Regions from separate parts of the Homo sapiens genome. Here region 2 is linked to region 1. A link means that fine-mapping ties the variant in region 1 to the expression of a gene that starts in the linked region. Tissue or cell type: caudate. Region 1 holds a variant in brackets; the other region holds the start of a gene. All regions are shown on one strand. Distances are from middle to middle.

Region 1 (8,101 bases):
AGGCGGGCAGACTGCCTGAAGTCAGGAGTTCAAGACCAGCCTGGCCAACATGGTGAAACCCCATCTCTACTAAAAATATAAAAATTAGCTGGGCCTGCCCCTGTAATCCCAGCTACTCGGGAGGCTGAGGCAGGAGAATCGCTTGAACCCAGGAGGTGGAGCTCGCATTGCACTCCAGCCTGGGTGACAAGAGTGAGACTTCATCTCAAAAAAGAAAAAAAAAAGAAAAAATTAGCCGGGAATGGTGGCACATGCCTGTAATCCCAGCTACTTGGGAGGCTGAGGCAGAAGAATTGCTTGAACCCAGGAAGCAGAGGTTGCGGTGAGCCAAGATTGTGCCATTGCACTCTAGTCTGGGCAACAAGAGCAAAACTCTGTCTCAAAAAAAAAAAAAAAAAAAAAAAAGGAAATCCAAGTAAAACCTCATTTTCCATTTTGCTAAATGACTTTAAAAACAACACTGACCCAAAAACCATTCTCATATATGTTGCCTGTTGTCCATGCAGGTGGAATTCATAAAACAGGGGAACCAAAAAAGTCAAGGAAAGGGACTGAGTATGAACTCTAGTAGGGGAAGAGAAAAATTTCAATTCTCTACATTGGGATTCACCTTTATTTTATTTTTTTAATTTAATTTTTTTTTTCTTTTTGAGATGAAGTTTCACTCTGTCACCCAGGCTGGAGTGCAGTGGTGTGATCTCAGCTTACTGCAACCTCCACCTCCCAGGTACAAGCAATTCTCCTGCCTCAGCCTCCCGAGTAGCTGGGACTACAGGTGCCCACCATTACGCCCGGCTAATTTTTGTATTTTTATAGAGATGGGGTTTCACCATGTTGGCCAGGCTGGTCTCGAACTCCTGACCTCAGGTGATCTGCCCACCTCGGCCTCCCAAAGTGCTGGGATTACAGGCGTGAGCCACCGCACCCAGCCTCGCCTTTATTTTAAAGGAAACACCTCAAAACTCAAGATGATTGCAATAATATGAAGAATTAGTATTTTTTCATGTTTACAATGTGTCAGTCACTTAGTAAACATAAGCCTTGCTGGCCAGGTGCAATGACTCACACCTGTAATCCCAGCACTCTGGGAGGCTGAGGCAGGCAGATCACTTGAGGCCAGGAGTTCAAGATCAAGACCAGCCTGTCCAACATAGCAAAACCCCATCTCTACTAAAAATACACAAATTGGCCAGGGGTTGTGGCGTGCACCTATAATCCCAGCTACTCTGGAGGCTGAGGTGGGAGGATTGCTTAGGATTGCTTGAGACCAGGAGGTCAAGGCTGCAGTGAGCTATGATCGCACCACTGCACTCCAACCTGGGTGACAGAGACCCCATTACAAACAAAAACAAAAACCCAAAAGATAAGCCTTGTCTTTCATGGAACATCACAGTGAACCCTCCAGACAACCCTATGAGGTAGGAACTGTTACTGCCTCCACTTTGCAGACAAGGAAACTGAAGCTTGGTGAGATGAAGCAATTTGCCCAAAGTCATGTGGCCGGTGGGCAGCAGAGTCAGAACTGGGCCTCAGGTATGGGACACCAACGTCTGAGCTCTCAGATTCCAGGGGCATTAAAATCACCAAAGGCAGCCGAGTGCGGTGGCTCACGCCTGTAATCCCAGCTCTTTGGGAGGCTGAGGTGGGTGGATCACGAGGTCAGGAGTTCAAGACCAACGTGGCCAACATCGTGAAACCTTGTCTCTACTAAAAATACAAAAAATTAGCCAGGTGAGGTGGCAGGCACCTGTAATCCCAGCTACTCAGGAGGCTGAGGCAGGACAAGTGCTTGAACCTGGGAGGCAGAGGTTGCAGTGAGCCAAGATCGCGCCACTGCACTCCAGCCTGGGTGACAGAGTGAGACTCCGTCTTGAAAAAAAAAAAAAAAAAAAAAAGTCACCAAAGGCACCTACCAAAGATACAGATTCCTGGGCCTCACTCCAGAACTACAAAATAAAACTATCCAAGGGTGGGGCCAAGGCATCTCTGTCTTTTCAGGGTGCTTCCCTGGGACTCAGATGTCCGTGAGAGTAAAAGATCCTTTCTCTATGCTACACTGTTTGTATTGCTTCCAGAAGGATTGTATTGCTTCTGCTAGGGAACTCTAAATCCCTCATGGTCTTGGTTTGGTTGACATCAAGAAAGAGAGAGAAACTTCAAGCCTTAAACTTTTTTTCCGTTTTTTTTTTTTGTTTGTTTTTTGTTTTTAAGACAGGGTCTTGTTCTGTCGCCCAGGCTGGAGTGCAATGGCTTAATCACAGCTCACAGCAGCTTCGACCTCCCAGCCTCAAGTGATCGTCCTACCTCAGCTGCCTGAGTAGCTGGGACCACAGGTGTGTGTGCACCACCATGCCTGGCTACTTTAAAAATTTTTTTGTATGGACAGGGTCTCACTATGTTGCCCAGGCTGTTCTTAAACTCCTGGGCTCAAGCAATCCTCCCACCTTGGCCTCCTAAAGTGTTTGGATTACAGGCGTGAGCTACTATACCTGGCCTTTAACATATAAATCATTCTGTTTCTTTTTTTTTTTATTTTGAGACAGAGTATCACTCTGTCGCTCTGTCACCCAGGCTGGAGTACACTGACTTAATCTCCACTCTCACTGTAACCTCCATCTCCCAAGTTCAAGAGATTCTCCTGCCTCAGCCTCCCAAGTAGGTGGGATTACAGGCGTACATCACTACACCTGGCCAATTTTGGTATTTTTAGTAGAGACAGGCTTTTACCATGTTGGCCAGGATGGTCTCAAATTCCTGACCTTACTCATTCGTTCATTTGCTCATTCATAATCCCTCCTCTGTCACTCACAAGAAAATTGCCTAACTTCTCTGAGTCTCAGTTTCTTCATCTATAAAATGGGGATAATCATTTTATCTACCTTATAGCACTGTTGGGAGAATTAAATGAGACAATTCACTTGAAGTGTTTAAAACAGTGCCACCGGGTGTGGTAACCTCAGGTGATCTGCCTGCCTTGGACTCCCAAAGTGCTGGGATTTAAATAATTCTGTTTCTTGGAAGGCCTTGCATTTTTAGGAGGTGATCCTGGAAAGGCTATCCAGGCTGAAATGATCAAAGTGAAATCTAATTAGGCCTCTTAAGCACTTTGGGATGCAGAGGCAGGCAGATCACCTGAGGTCAGGAGTTCGAGACCAGCCTGGCTAACATGGTGAAACCCTATCTCTACTAAAAATACAAAAATTAGCCAGGCTTGGTGGCAGGTGTCTGTAATCCCAGCTACCAATGCTGAAGCAGGGAGAATTGCTTGAACCCGAGAGGTGGAGGTTGCAGTGAGCCAAGATTGCACCACTGCACTCCAGGCTGGGCAACAGAGCGAGACTCCATCTCAAAAAAAACAAAACAAAACAATTAGGCCTCCCAAAATCTATGACCTTGTCATCCCCTCTGCCTGGAAGAACCTGCTGTCCTCTTCTCCTCTGTGCTCCCAGCTCCCACTACCCCCCCAGTACTGGCTCTCGCTCTTTCAGGTGCATGGGAAACACTCCGGGATTCTGTTAAAAGGAAGATTCCTGGGCTCCACAAAAGGGCTCTGAGTGAGCAGGGTTAAGATGAAGCCTGGGCAGGCTGGGCGCAGTGGCTCACACCTGTAACCCCAGCACTTTGGGAGGCCAAGGCGGGCGGATCACGAGGTC[A/T]AGAGATCAAGACCATCCTGGTCAACATGGTGAAACCCTGTCTCTATTAAAAATATAAAAGTTAGCTGGGCGTGGTGGCAGGTGCCTGTAGTCCCAGCCACTCAGGAGGCTGAAGCAGGAGAATCGCTTGAACCCGGGAGGCGAAGGTTGCAGTGAGCCGAGATCACACCATTGCACTCCAACCTGGGCAACAGAGCGAGATGCCATCTCAAAAAAAAAAAAAAAAAAAAAAGATGAAGGCTGGGAATCTGCATTTTAACTAGTAGGACAGGTGGTCCATGAACCACATTTTGAATAACACTGATGTTTGTTTCAAGTTGTGTCTCTCTCTCTGACAGGCTGTGAGCAGCTTGAAGGCGAGGTACGTACTACACTCTCACACCTAAGAATACACTGAATGAATGGGTGATGGCTGGCATTTATCAAATGCTTCTTATGCACATGGCACTATTTTTTATTTTATTTTATTATTTTACTTTGAGACAGAATCTTGCTCTGTCACCCAGGCCGGAGTGCAGTGGCGCCACCACCGTTCAATGCAGCCCTGACCTTCTGGGTTCAAGCAGTCTCCCACCTCAGCCTCCTGAGTAGCTGGGACCACAGGCATGTGGCACCACACCCAGCTAATTTCTTTAATTTTGTAGAGACAGTGTCTCACTGTGTTAGCTAGGCTGGTCTCAAACTCCTGGGATCAAGGGATGCTCCCGCCTTGGCCTCCCTCCCAAAGGGCTGGGATTTTAGGCATGAGCCACAGCACCCAATGGCACTGTTTTAAACACTTCAAGTGAACTATCTCCCAACATATTTAATTCTCCCAACAATGCTATAAGGTAGAGAGAATGATTATCCTCATTTTATAGATGAAGAAACTGAAACTAAGGCTCGAAGAAGTTAGGCAATTTTCCTGTGAGTGGCAGAGGAGGAGTTATGAATGAGTAAATGAATGAATAAGAGAAGAGAAGAGAAAGTAACCAGGCAGGTATGCCTGTAATCCCAGCACTTCAGGAGGCTGAGACGGGTGGTCACCTGAGGTCAGGAGTTCGAGACCAGCCTGGCCACATAGTGAAACCCCGTCTCTACTAAAAATACAAAAAAACTAGCTGGGTGTGGAGGTGCATACCTGTAATCCCAGCTACTCAGGAGGCCGAGGTAGGGGAATCACTTGAACCTGAAGGCGGAGGTTGCAGTGAGCCATGATCGCGCCACTGCACTCCAGCCTGGGGGACAAGAGTGAGACTCCGTCTCAAAGAAAAAAAAAAAAAGTGATGACCTAACAGGCGGGCTTTAGGTGACATAGGGAGTAATATGGGGGCTCAGGTGGCAGGGGAGGGGCAGGAGGTAGCTTCCATACCTTGCAGCCCTCACAAGTGATACAGCGGTAGTGATAACCAGTTGCCTTGTCCCCACACACGACACACTGCTCGTCTTTGTCCAGGTAACTAGGGATATACCCTGGGAGGAAGGAAAGGATGGAGGAAGGCAGGCATGGCTTGGAGTCCCAGCAGAGAGGCTCTCACACTTTTCCCCATCCCTCAACTTTTTGTTTCTGACCCCTCTCCTAGCCCAGCCTCCCTGGTAGAATCCTAGAGAGACACGAGGTGAACCTGTCCATCTCTGCCCTAAGAGTATGAAGAATCTCAGTTCTTCTGACTGCCCATTCAGGGCTTTCTTCTTGATCTATCTACAAGGCAGAGGATGGTGGAGAGGGAAAAATAAACGTCAGCTGCTCACTGGGGATAATACAGCCCCTCAGTCCTTCAGCTCAGGCCCTGATTCTGGTAGGGCCTCAGATGAGGGTATTAGGGGAAGAGGGAAGAGGCCGTCCTGACCTAATCCACCCTCAAAAGCTGGGCACATCCCACATTACCTTTCTCACCCCCAGACAAGTCCATCCCAAGCCCTCTAGGAGGCTCCCCCCAGGGAACACATGAATTACTGTTCCACATCCAGGTCCAGAGGAGCCCTGGCTGGGTTTGGTGGGGTTGGGGACGTGGAGAAGGGGCACGCACAGCCAGCCTCACCTGACATGCTGGTTTTCAGGGAACATTGGCCGTTCTTTCTTTTTCGCTTTCCATCTGGTGACCTGGCACTGGATGGAGGCAAAGTGGGCAGAATCACAGAGCAGTCTTCGAGTAGCCCCTTTCTCATCCGAGAGGCTTATGCAATCCCCCAAGGCCTGATTCTTTCCATTTTGTGTCCTCATTCTACCTCCCACCCCCCAGGGTCAGCTGACAATGCTTAAAAGGGTCCAGTTATCTGGAAGTTGCAGGGGAGAGAGATAAGGGGCTTGGCTGTGGCACAAGCATATTCTAGAGCCCCAACACACACACATTCACCCGCCAGAAGACCTGAAGCACCCATAATCTGCAGGACATCCTCATCTTTCAGTACATGACGAATACGCTGGAAGAATTCTCAGGATATGCTTAAAGCTATGTAGCCTTTAGAACACACACATACATATGCAACATAACACCGGCACAGATGAATAACCATGCAACCTTCACTATAAACCCATGGATGGTGAGTATGCACCAGGGCCAACATACCTGTGAAATTTTCAGGGCATTCTTAAATGTGCTATACAACCTCTAGGATATGCCCATGTGTTACACAACACTCTGCACAGGCACCTCATAAAACCACCCTCATCCCTCCAGTGTGCACGTGTTGCTTGAGCTCCAGGTCATACACACATGCTAAATAACCCACAGCAATAGAAAACACTACACCCTCTGCACAGCCTCCATTTAACAGAGCAGCAAACTGAGACCCTGCTTGTGCCTGGTGACACCATGAGCTAGAGTCAGAGCCGGGACTGAGCCCCTCTGTGCAGCGTATTATTAGCAACCCTCAGCCACTGCACATATATGTTGCCAGGCTCTCCACATACATGTTGCATAACCTCGGTGCACACAGGTTACATAAGCCCTCTACATGCATGCAAGGATTGTATAACCTCCCGCACCCACCCTGCGTGTGGCATGTTGCAGGCCCCTTCCTCCTGGAGCCGGATGCAGCTCCCAACACACTGACACAGTGACCTTGGCCAGGGTCACAGTCACAGACAACCCTATGCTCCACGCCCCGTGGGGATTACTCCGGTCTACTTCCTATGAGGCTGAAAGGTCAGGTCTCCCTCACGCCTCCCAGAGGGTTGGGTGCAGGGGAACTCAGCCCACCTAGGCCCCAGTTGAGCTAGCGGCTTCAGCAGTTACCACCAGACTCACAGCCTCTGAGTGTAGTCCTAGAGATAGCCACAAGGTGGCGCATAGACATGGGGGAGGGGAAGGTGATGGGGGAGGGGTTGCAGTCTTAGGAGACTGGGAACTGGCATTCCTGCCTTTCTCCAAACATTAAGCACAGACTCTTCCAGACCCACAGAAGCCTAAGCTGGGAGACACAGGGGCTGCAAGTGACAGCCACACAGCGACAGGCCAGATCGTCCTCAGAGTCCTTCCTGGGGTGAGGCTTTGGGGGAGGGGAGCTACCCCATGCCCTGCCCAGCTGTGAGTTCCATCTACTTCCTCTACCCTCCAGGGACCCAGTTGTGGGCCTTAGGGCTTTGCCTGGCCAGGCCTCTGGCTTCCTGGCTCGGGATCTGATCTCCTAGGCAACAGTCAGCCACACTGCTCCCCGGAGCACCCCCACCCCCACCCTCTCCCTGGCCATAGGCACAGGCTGTACCCAGCTCCCAGGGCACCGTGCCAACTGGGACAAAGCTCTGTGCCACTTGGAGCTGATAGAAAAGACAGAGACCCTCTGGGCTCCTCAAGGGCAATGCAGATCACAGGTAACCATCCCTTGGTGTATGTGCAGGGCTGACACCTCACCCATGTGGAAGCAAAACCATCATGGTTGGCGTGCACTTTCTGGGAGGAGCCCCATCGCAGTGCCCGCCCTTGACCATGAACAAGGAAGAGCTTGTGGGGCTCCCAATAGATTCCGAATATAAGCTTGGGCTATGACCAATAGTTACTGGTGCATGTGCCCTGAAATGTATTACGTGAACCGCAGCTTGTGGACAACACACTTGTGGTCAGATAGTAAATGGGCTGGTAGGGAGAGGAAGAAAATGGCAAGGCTGTTTGGATCCCACATGCTCAAGGTAAGGGCAGCAATGGTGGAAGGGACGTTGGGGGCATCTGAGACTGCCCAGCAATGTCTAGGGAAGAGCCCCTTATGTGCTCCCTGTAATTGCTCTGTATCGCTCCCCGCTTCAAAATGAGCATCTCTCAATCCAAGTGCCTGTCACATCTGAACATGACTTCATCTGCCAGACAAAGGTAGGCAGAAGGCTTGCTGGCCTCACGTCCATCCCACAGAGGTGCTTAAAGGCGGTGCCTAAAGGAGAGCTCAGCCAGGTGCCCATGCCTGCTGCTTAGGAGTTGGCATGACCTAGTTGCTGAACCCATTACCTGTTCTCCTCTGGGTCTGACCCACACTCC
Region 2 (8,095 bases), 99 kb before region 1:
GGGGACTGTGTGTGTGCATGTGTGTGTATCCCTCTTCCCCTCCCCATTTCCCACCTAACAGCTTTGAGTTCTAACTAGGCAGGTGGGAACCAGCCTGATTAAAAGGGAGATGGAGAGACTGCCATCACTTTGATCCCAGAACCTTTAAATAGAAATCCTGTGTCCTTTAGGGGCCCAGAGACAGAAGGGTTAATGATGGAATGGTGAAGGGGAGCGGCTCCTCTCACCACCCCTTTCCCCTCCACACCCCCGTCTGGGCCTGGCTCAGCCAGTCAGCCGGGTACAAGGTCGCCCTGACTTGCAGCCAGCCCTGGGGTGGGGCAGGGCCACCTGGCACACACAGACAGACAAGGTGCAGGGAGGGAGCCAGGTGTCCTCACCAGGACTGGTTAGGGCCAGGTCCCCAGGCACTGTCCCAGGACAAAACCAAGGCTTCTGACTCCCCTTGGTTCACTATCTCCTGTGGTCAGTTCTAGCCATGCAGGCGGAGGAGGAAAACCAACACAAAGTAATTGACTTCAAGGATTTCATTTCGCAAATGTGAAACTGAGGCCCAGAGCTGGGAGGGACTTGCCTGGAGCTGGAATAAGAACCCAGAATCCTGAGTCTTTGTCCTTTTCTCAATATGCCTGAGGCAAGCAGAGTGTTAGGGTAAAACCTAGCGGTCAGAGGGGGCTGCTTGGACGTTGGAGAGGCTTTGGTAGGTTCAGAGTAACTTCTGTAAGTTCTCTCCTCCCACACACCCTGGGAGGAGACCAGGATGACTTGAGAACATTGGTTTTATTGGAGAACATCAGAGTGGCAGGTTAAGCTGATTCTCATTCACCTGGGACTGGTTTGGAATTTCCCAAACTAGTTACTCTGGGGATCCAGGCTGCCAGATAACATGGGTGACATTTCAGGAGTCTTACCCCAGGGGAGAATGAGCGGAGCGTGTGGCACCAGGCCCCTGTAAAAGGGGAAAGACAGCTTCTCCCTTTTCCTCCCTGCCCAGCTACCCTGCTGTGTTCTTACAATGAGTCAGAGAGCCTCCAGCTCTGACCCCCAGCTTCAGGGATGAGGGTGAGGAAACGAGAGGCCTGACATCCTTCATAGACTTTATCTCACAGGATTCCTAAGCTGGAGCAAAGGAAGAGTAAGATGGGGCAGAGTTGGGGAGATGCTGATATGGGGGCCACAGTTGGGCATCTGTCTTTTCCAAAGCAGGCTCTGGGCCAATGTACAGCCTCCCTAGGGAATGTGTCATAGAGACACAGGGTGTGTGGTGTAGGCGGGAAGTTATGGTTAGGAGAGCTGTGTGTGTCTGATATTTTTCTAATTAAATCCAAAAGGTGTCAGCTCCCCAGGGCAACTACAGCCTGCTCCAAAGGAGAGGACCCAGGTCTTGAGAAGGATCTAGGAGAGTGGAGCCCCCCTCCACACATCTAGGTTGGGGTTCCCTGCCGAGGGCTGAGAGCAAGTGTGAAAGCCCTCACCATTAGGGCCTCAGCCGGGGCTCCCAAACCTCAGACCCTCCTGGGCTTAGAGTAATGCCTAGAGCTAGACCTAAAGAACCCTCGGTCTTCTACCTCAGAACTAACCAGATTTGGGGCCTTGGTTTCCTCAAAGGCCCCTTAGTAGGGGTGCTGAAAGGGAGTGGTGAAATAGTATCATCATTTAGGGAATAAGCTTCTCAGGGTGTGGTGATTATATTTTAAAGAGGCCGTGTGCCAGGTCCGGTGGCTCACGCCTGTAATCCCAGCACTTTGGGAGGCCGTGGGGTGGGGGTGGGGGGAGGTAGATAACGAGGTCAGGAGTTCAAGACCAGCCTGACCAAGTTGGTGAAACCCCGAAACCCCGTCTCTACTAAAACTACAAAAATTAGCCAGGCCAGTGGCTCACGCCTGTAATCCCAGCACTTTGGGAGGCCAAGGCAGGTGGATCACGAGGTCAGGAGTTCGAGACCATCCTGGCTAACACGGTGAAACCCCTGTCTCTACTAAAAATACAAAAATTAGCCAGGCGTGGTGCCACATGCCTGTAGTCCCAGCTACTCAGGAGGCTGAGGCAGGAGAATCGCTTGAACCTGGGCGGTGGAGGTTGCAGTGAGCTGAGATGGCGCCACTGCACTCCAGCCTGGGTGACAGTGAGACTACATCTCCAAAAGAAAAAAAAAAAAAAGCCGGGTGCTGAGGCCTGCCACCGAAGGGTGGAAGCTGGAGGCGCTTGGACACCCTGGATGCTGCAGGGCCATGATGCCGGCCCAGCCACCTCTCCCCTCCCAGACACCTTCTGAGTCCAGCCCAAGGAGAATACTATCCCCCCCACCAAACTGCTAAGGACAACGCATCCCTTTGCTGATGCCTAAAAGGCAGCTTGGGGCCTGTGCCTGTCTGGCACTGCCTCCCTGGGTGGGTCAGCCTGCGCTGTGTAGGCCTCTGAACAGTCAGGGACCCCAGGGTTTTCAGGGCTAAAGCACCTCTGGCGGGTGGCATGGCTGCGCTGGGCAGCTCCCATTTTAATGTGTCAGGCCCTAATTTGGGGCCACAGGAGGAGGTATTCAACATCAGGGACCCATGGGAGTCAGTGGCTCCAATGCCCAGGGGAAAGGAAGGGTGGCTGAAGGAGAGTAAGAGGCTCAGCTGCTTCTCCAGACGAGGGTGAGGCTGCTGTAGGGAGGAAGGTGAGTACTGCTCTCCTCTTCCGCGGGAGGGTCTGTACCTCCGCTAGGCCCCTAGCCGGCTTCCGCGGACCACTCAACCCTATAACCAAGCCCCGGCACGGCGCCACCCCTACGCTCCAAGGGCAAGGAAGAGGAGCCGGGGCCAGCCCCTGCTCTGGGTGTTCGAGCCCACCGGCTCCTTACCTGAGGCGGCGCTGTCCCTGGTAGCCCCTCCAGCAAGCCGCTCCAGAACCCGGTTCAGAAGATGCTCGGGCCGCTCGGGGGCGCCCAGAGGGGCCCAGGGCGGCGAAGTCAAGGGCTCGCCTGGGGACAGCTCGTCAGATGAGTAGGAGGAAGGGGAGCGCAGGGGCCCCCCTCCCCCGAGAGGCCCGGGCCCCGGCACCTCCTCCAGCTGCAGCCAGCAGGGCCCCCCGCTGCCCGGCTCCTCCGCGACCCCCGCCGGCTCTCCTCCTTCCTCCTCAGGGGGCGGCTCCAGCCCCGGCTCGGCGGGGGGCTCCCGGAGGAAAGCGGGGAGCAGCAGGCGAGACACGCTCTGACGCCGCTGCAACGACCGCTGTCCCCCGGCTGGACCGCCGCCCCCGCCGGGTCCCCCACCCCCTCCAGGCCCACCGCAGCTCCCCAGACCCCCGCCGGGACCTCCCGCCACCGTTCGGCCCGCCAGCTGCGACGTCTGCTTCTTCAGAAATTTCTCCAGCGGCTTCATGCCCCCCCCCGCCCCTCTCCTAGGGGTCGCCGGGGGACCCAGGTATCCCAGGCGCGGGCGGGGGGGGCGGCGAAGACACGATGCTCAGAGCTGGAGGAGCAGAGTAGAGGGCCGTGCCAGGCGCCAGACTGGGGGCCAGAGGGGCCGAGCCTCGCTGGCCAGAGTCCAGTGGCCAGTAGCCGGGGGAGGTGCCAGAGGAAAGGAGTGCTCGCTCTCAGCAACCCCCCATGCCGGCTGCAGCCGGCACGCGGCCCGAAGAGTGGGCAGGCTGCGGGGCCGGTGCGCCCGGCTCTGCGCTGCGGCGGCAGAGGCAGCGGGCGGAGCGCAAGGCTGAGAGGACGCGGCGGCGGCGGCGGCGGCGGCTGCGCTCCTGGCCGTGAAGAGGGGGAAGGTGGCAGAACCGAGACCGCGCCCCCTCCTCCAGTCCCCGCCCAGTCCCCGCCCCTACCCTTCCTCGGCTCGCCCCCGCGCCGCACGAGGCTTGAACTCGCGCGCTGGGGTTGACCGCGAGGGAAACAGTAAGGGACTTGGGTTCTAAGCAGAAGAAATTAAGGGCAAAGGTAAGTCAGAGATTTACCAATGGGGAAGGATTCCTGGCTCAAGGGATAACCGGGTCTCAGCATCATTTCAAAGAGTCAGGACAGGTCTGTGGCCTGGACACCTTCACTCACCTACCTGTGTACCCAAGTCAGGCCTACAGATTGCTGAACCCAAGAGTGTGCACCTTTCTCATACTCACAGAAATATGTGGAGTTTATCTTCCTTCTGTGAGAAGAGCTGGGAAGGCCTCTTGGGTGAATTAGCATTGCCACTGGAGGCGGTGCCCATCTGTCCTCTCTGGTAGGGCACAATAGGTGGTGTGGGCCTGGTCTGTGGGCAGGTACTGGCAGGCAGGTAGGAGCCAGGCAGGGAGCAGCAGGTTGTGGCAGGTCTAGCTGGGGTGAGGAGGGGATAATAGGCAGTGGGGAGGAGACCAGGAGCACAAGGGCACCTGAGCCCAGCTGGCAGCAGAAGGAAGCAGGGCCATGGAGACAGGTGACAAGCCCCAGAACTGCCGACTATCATCAAGCACAGAGCCCAAGTGTACATGGCCATGGAGTGGGAAAAGTGGTGCCAATTAGCACTCCAAGTAATCCTTACTCCTGATGCCCACACCAGGAGCATTCTGTCCTTAAGGATATGCTGCCCCAGAAGGAGTGTGGGGGAGGAGGGGGGTGCATCGTAAAGCCATGCTAAGTGTGAGAACATCCAGGTTAGACTTACAAGGTGTGGGAGTGGCAGCAGGTTCTCGATGGGTTGAGGCTCTCTGGACAATGCCCCACCCCTGTTTACCGAGCACCAACCAGGCAGAGACAGGAATGCTAATGGCTGGGAGTGGTAGTAAAACTGAACAGGGTGTGTATGACATACGTATCAATGTATGTGCATATCTGTTCCCATGTGTGCTAGAGCATGTGTTCACAGAAATAAAGCTTTGCACACCCATCTGTTTGTGGATTTGGAAACAGTAAAAAGAAGACAGCGCACAATTTTGGCTAAGAAGCTGTATTAGAGGTCTGAGTATCAGCTTCCTGTGCTCCCCTTATTGGACACTCCAATATCCCCTGGCTTGAAAGGGGAAAGTGGCTGGAATGGGTTGGAGCTCCCCAGGTAGCATTTTATGAACTGAATAGGAAGAGGGAAGGGCTTCTCTCCCAGCACATGCCACAGTTACCAGATTAAGCCGGTTGCCTTGGTAACCTTCTCTCTGGGCAGGATTTGGGAATTGTTGGTTAGGAAGGGCGAATTGGGGAGTGTGAAGGGTGTAGGGGGTTGAAAATAAAACAGACTGAGAGACTTCTGGAAGCTAGAAGCTTGGGACACAGGACCCCAGTACTCCCCCAAATGCTCAAGGATGTCAGGCAGAGACTAAGTTCAACATTTTGAATCAGTGAGGAGAGCCAGCATCAAGTCATGGTCCTCCTGGAGTGGCAGTGGTTTTCACCCTGACTACACACTGGAATCACAGGGAAGCTTCTCAGAAATACTGATGCTGGCTGGGCTTGGTGGCTCACGCCTGTAATCTCAACACTTTGGGAAGCCAAGGCGGGCAGATCACTTGAGGTCATGAGTTCAAGACCAGCCTGACCAACATGGTGAAACCCCACTTCTAAAAATACAAAAAAAATTAGCCGGGCATGGTGGCACACACCTGTAATCCAAGCTACTTTGGAGGCTGAGGTAGAAGGATTGCTTGAACCTGGGAGGTGAAGGTTGCAGTGAGCTGTTATCATGCCACTGCACTCCAGCCTGGGTGAGAGACTCCATATTAAAAAAAAAAAAAAAATACTGGCCAAGTGCAACAGCTCACGCCTATAATCCCGGTACTTTGGGAGGCCGAGAAGGGTGCAACATGAGGTCAGAAGTTCGAGACCAGTCTGGCCAACATAGTGAAACCCTGTCTCTACTAAAAATACAAACATTTGCTGGGCATGGTGGCTGGTGCCTGTAATCTCAGCTACTCAGGAGGCTGAGGCAGGAGAATCGCTTGAACCCGGGAGGTGGAGGCTGCAGTGAGCCGAGATCATGCCACTGCACTCCAGCCTGGGCAACAAGAGCAAGACTGTCTCAAAAAAAAAAAAAACAAACAAACAAAAAAAAAACTGATGCCTAGGCCATATCTCAGACCAATTAAATCAGATTTCTGAACCAGGGCGAAGGCTTATGGTATTTTTTAAAAAGCTCCTCACATGACACAAATGGCCAGGATTGAAAATCACTGCCCTAGACGGACAGTCAACCCAAGTGGGCTGCAGATGCTGGGAGCTGACTTTGGAATTCCAAGTCTTTGGTGCTCCGAGTTGCCTACAAGGTAGCAGGTCTGTGCGCTGACCCTGAAGGGGAAGAGAGCTGGCAGAGCATTTGCACCCGCTTATGGAAGAAATAAAGAGGAAGGCAGGGTGGTATGAATAACAACTATGAGATGGGGGCGAAAAAGCTTTGAGCTTTTTTTGAGCCCATGGGCTTCTACAAGGGGACTGGGCAGGGCCACCTCAGGCTATCTGTCTGCTGCTTACACACCCTCTTCTTTCTGCCCACCCAGAGGCAGGCTGGGAGGATAGAGAGAACCTGGGGGCTTTGCTGAGCTTGAGTTTCTTCTTGCAGAGCTGGTTACCAGGGCAACAGAGAGAGCAATAGGGTCTAACTGAAGGACTAGGGAAGCAAGAGGCAAGGGTAAAGGGGAAGCATCCAACACTCAAACCTCCTGCCAGTAACCCACCCCCAAGGCTGGATGGCATTTTTTCATAACCCCAGGAGATCAGGCCTACAGTCACCCATCACATTGTGGGGAAGAGAAGCAAACTGACATGATTTAAAGAGGAATTAGGGGCCCAGCGTGGTGGCTCACGCCTGTAATCCCAGAACTTTGGGAGGCCAAGCTGAGCCAATCACCTGAGGCCAGGAATTTGAGACCAGCCTGGCCAACATGGTGAAACCCCATCTCTACTAAAAATACAGAAAAAAAGTAGTGGGGCATGGTGGCGGGCGCCTGTAAACCCCAGCTACTTGGGAGGCTGAGGCAGGAGAATCGCTTAAACCCGGGAGGTGGAGGTTGTGGTGAGCCGAGATCGTGCCACTGCACTCCAGCCTGGGCGACAGAGTGAGACTCAGTCTAAAAAAAAAAAAGGAATTAGGGACGGGGCTCAGAAAAGTCACAGTCCTCTGGCTGTGGCACCAGCACCAAGATATGGGGGAAGTCCCATCTGTCTTTATAAGATGTACAATAGTTGGGCACAGCAGCTCAAGCCTGTAATCCCAGCACTTTGGGAAGCCCAGACAGCGGGATCACTTGAGCCCAGGAATTCAATGACCCTATCTCTACAAAAATAAATTAGCTAGGTGTGGTGGTGCATGCTTGTGGTTTCAGCTACTTGAGAGGCTGAGGTGGGTGGATTGATTGAGCCCAGGTGGTCAAAGCTGCAGTGAGCCACGATTGTGCCATTGCACTCCAGCCTGGGCAATAGAGCAAGACCAAAAAAAAAAAAAAAAAAAAAAAAAAGATGTACTATGATATCTATGCCTCCCGTGTATGGATTTGTGAAACCCAACAAATGCTGCCAGCTCCATATGAAAGTTGCTCTCCCATACCAGAGATAGCTTCTGTAGTAAACTTCCATCCCACCCAGGACCTAGAGGAAAAAGTCACTTCAAAGGTAGGAACTGCCCTCTAAGCATCAAAGGCCAAGTGGACTAGGTAAACTGAATTATGACCCACAGTTGATTTGTTTTTTGAAATCATGTGTCCAGGCAGGTTATGTTATCTGTCCATTTCACTTTGGGATATTAGTGTTGCAAAATATTTGTTATAAGAAAGGAACATTGGGGCTGGGTGTAGTGGCTTGCACATGTAATCCCAGCACTCTAGGAGGCTAAGACAGGAGGATCATTTGAACCAAGGCGTTCCAGACTAGCCTGGGTAACACACTGAGACCTCGTCTCTACTAAAAACAAACCACAAAAATTAGCTGGGCATGGTGGTGTGGGCCTGTAGTCACAGCTATTTGGGAAGCTGTGGCAAGATTGCTTGAACCTTGGAGTTCCAAGTTACAGCAACCTATGATTGTGCTACTGCATTCCAGCCTGGGTGACGGGCAAGACCGTCTCAGAAAAAAAAAAAAAAGTGACTTTGGATCTGGTAGGGTGGAGAGCCACTGGCAAGGACATTAAGAACACAGACTCAGACTTGGCCT

Direction of the effects. Alleles are on the strand shown, and positions count from the first base shown. SD is a standard deviation of normalised expression in the study named.
In carriers of allele T in region 1, the expression in caudate of the gene that starts at base 3,757 in region 2 tends to be higher than with A alone (small effect, 0.36 SD a copy in GTEx).

Evidence for each region. PIP is the estimated chance that this variant, and not a neighbour inherited with it, causes the effect.
Region 2: it holds the start of RAPGEFL1, and the variant in region 1 is fine-mapped to the expression of RAPGEFL1 in caudate (GTEx, PIP 0.98).

The regions. Positions count from the first base shown.
Region 1 is chr17:40,074,512-40,082,612 of GRCh38, reverse strand. It overlaps THRA (thyroid hormone receptor alpha), which reads right to left. Exons shown (of 9, transcript NM_199334.5): 2 at 8,072-8,101; 3 at 5,675-5,742; 4 at 5,005-5,105. Among named protein-coding and RNA genes, the nearest start is that of THRA, 16 kb to the right of the region's middle. RefSeq lists enhancers at 6,771-6,850, 6,974-7,829. The variant A/T (reference allele first, on the strand shown) is at 3,654.
Region 2 is chr17:40,173,132-40,181,226 of GRCh38, reverse strand. RAPGEFL1 (Rap guanine nucleotide exchange factor like 1) reads right to left here and starts at 3,757. Exons shown (of 15, transcript NM_016339.6): 1 at 2,846-3,757. The coding sequence starts at 3,365. RefSeq lists enhancers at 1,774-2,628, 2,629-3,485, 3,877-4,377, 4,378-4,878 and a silencer at 3,716-3,845.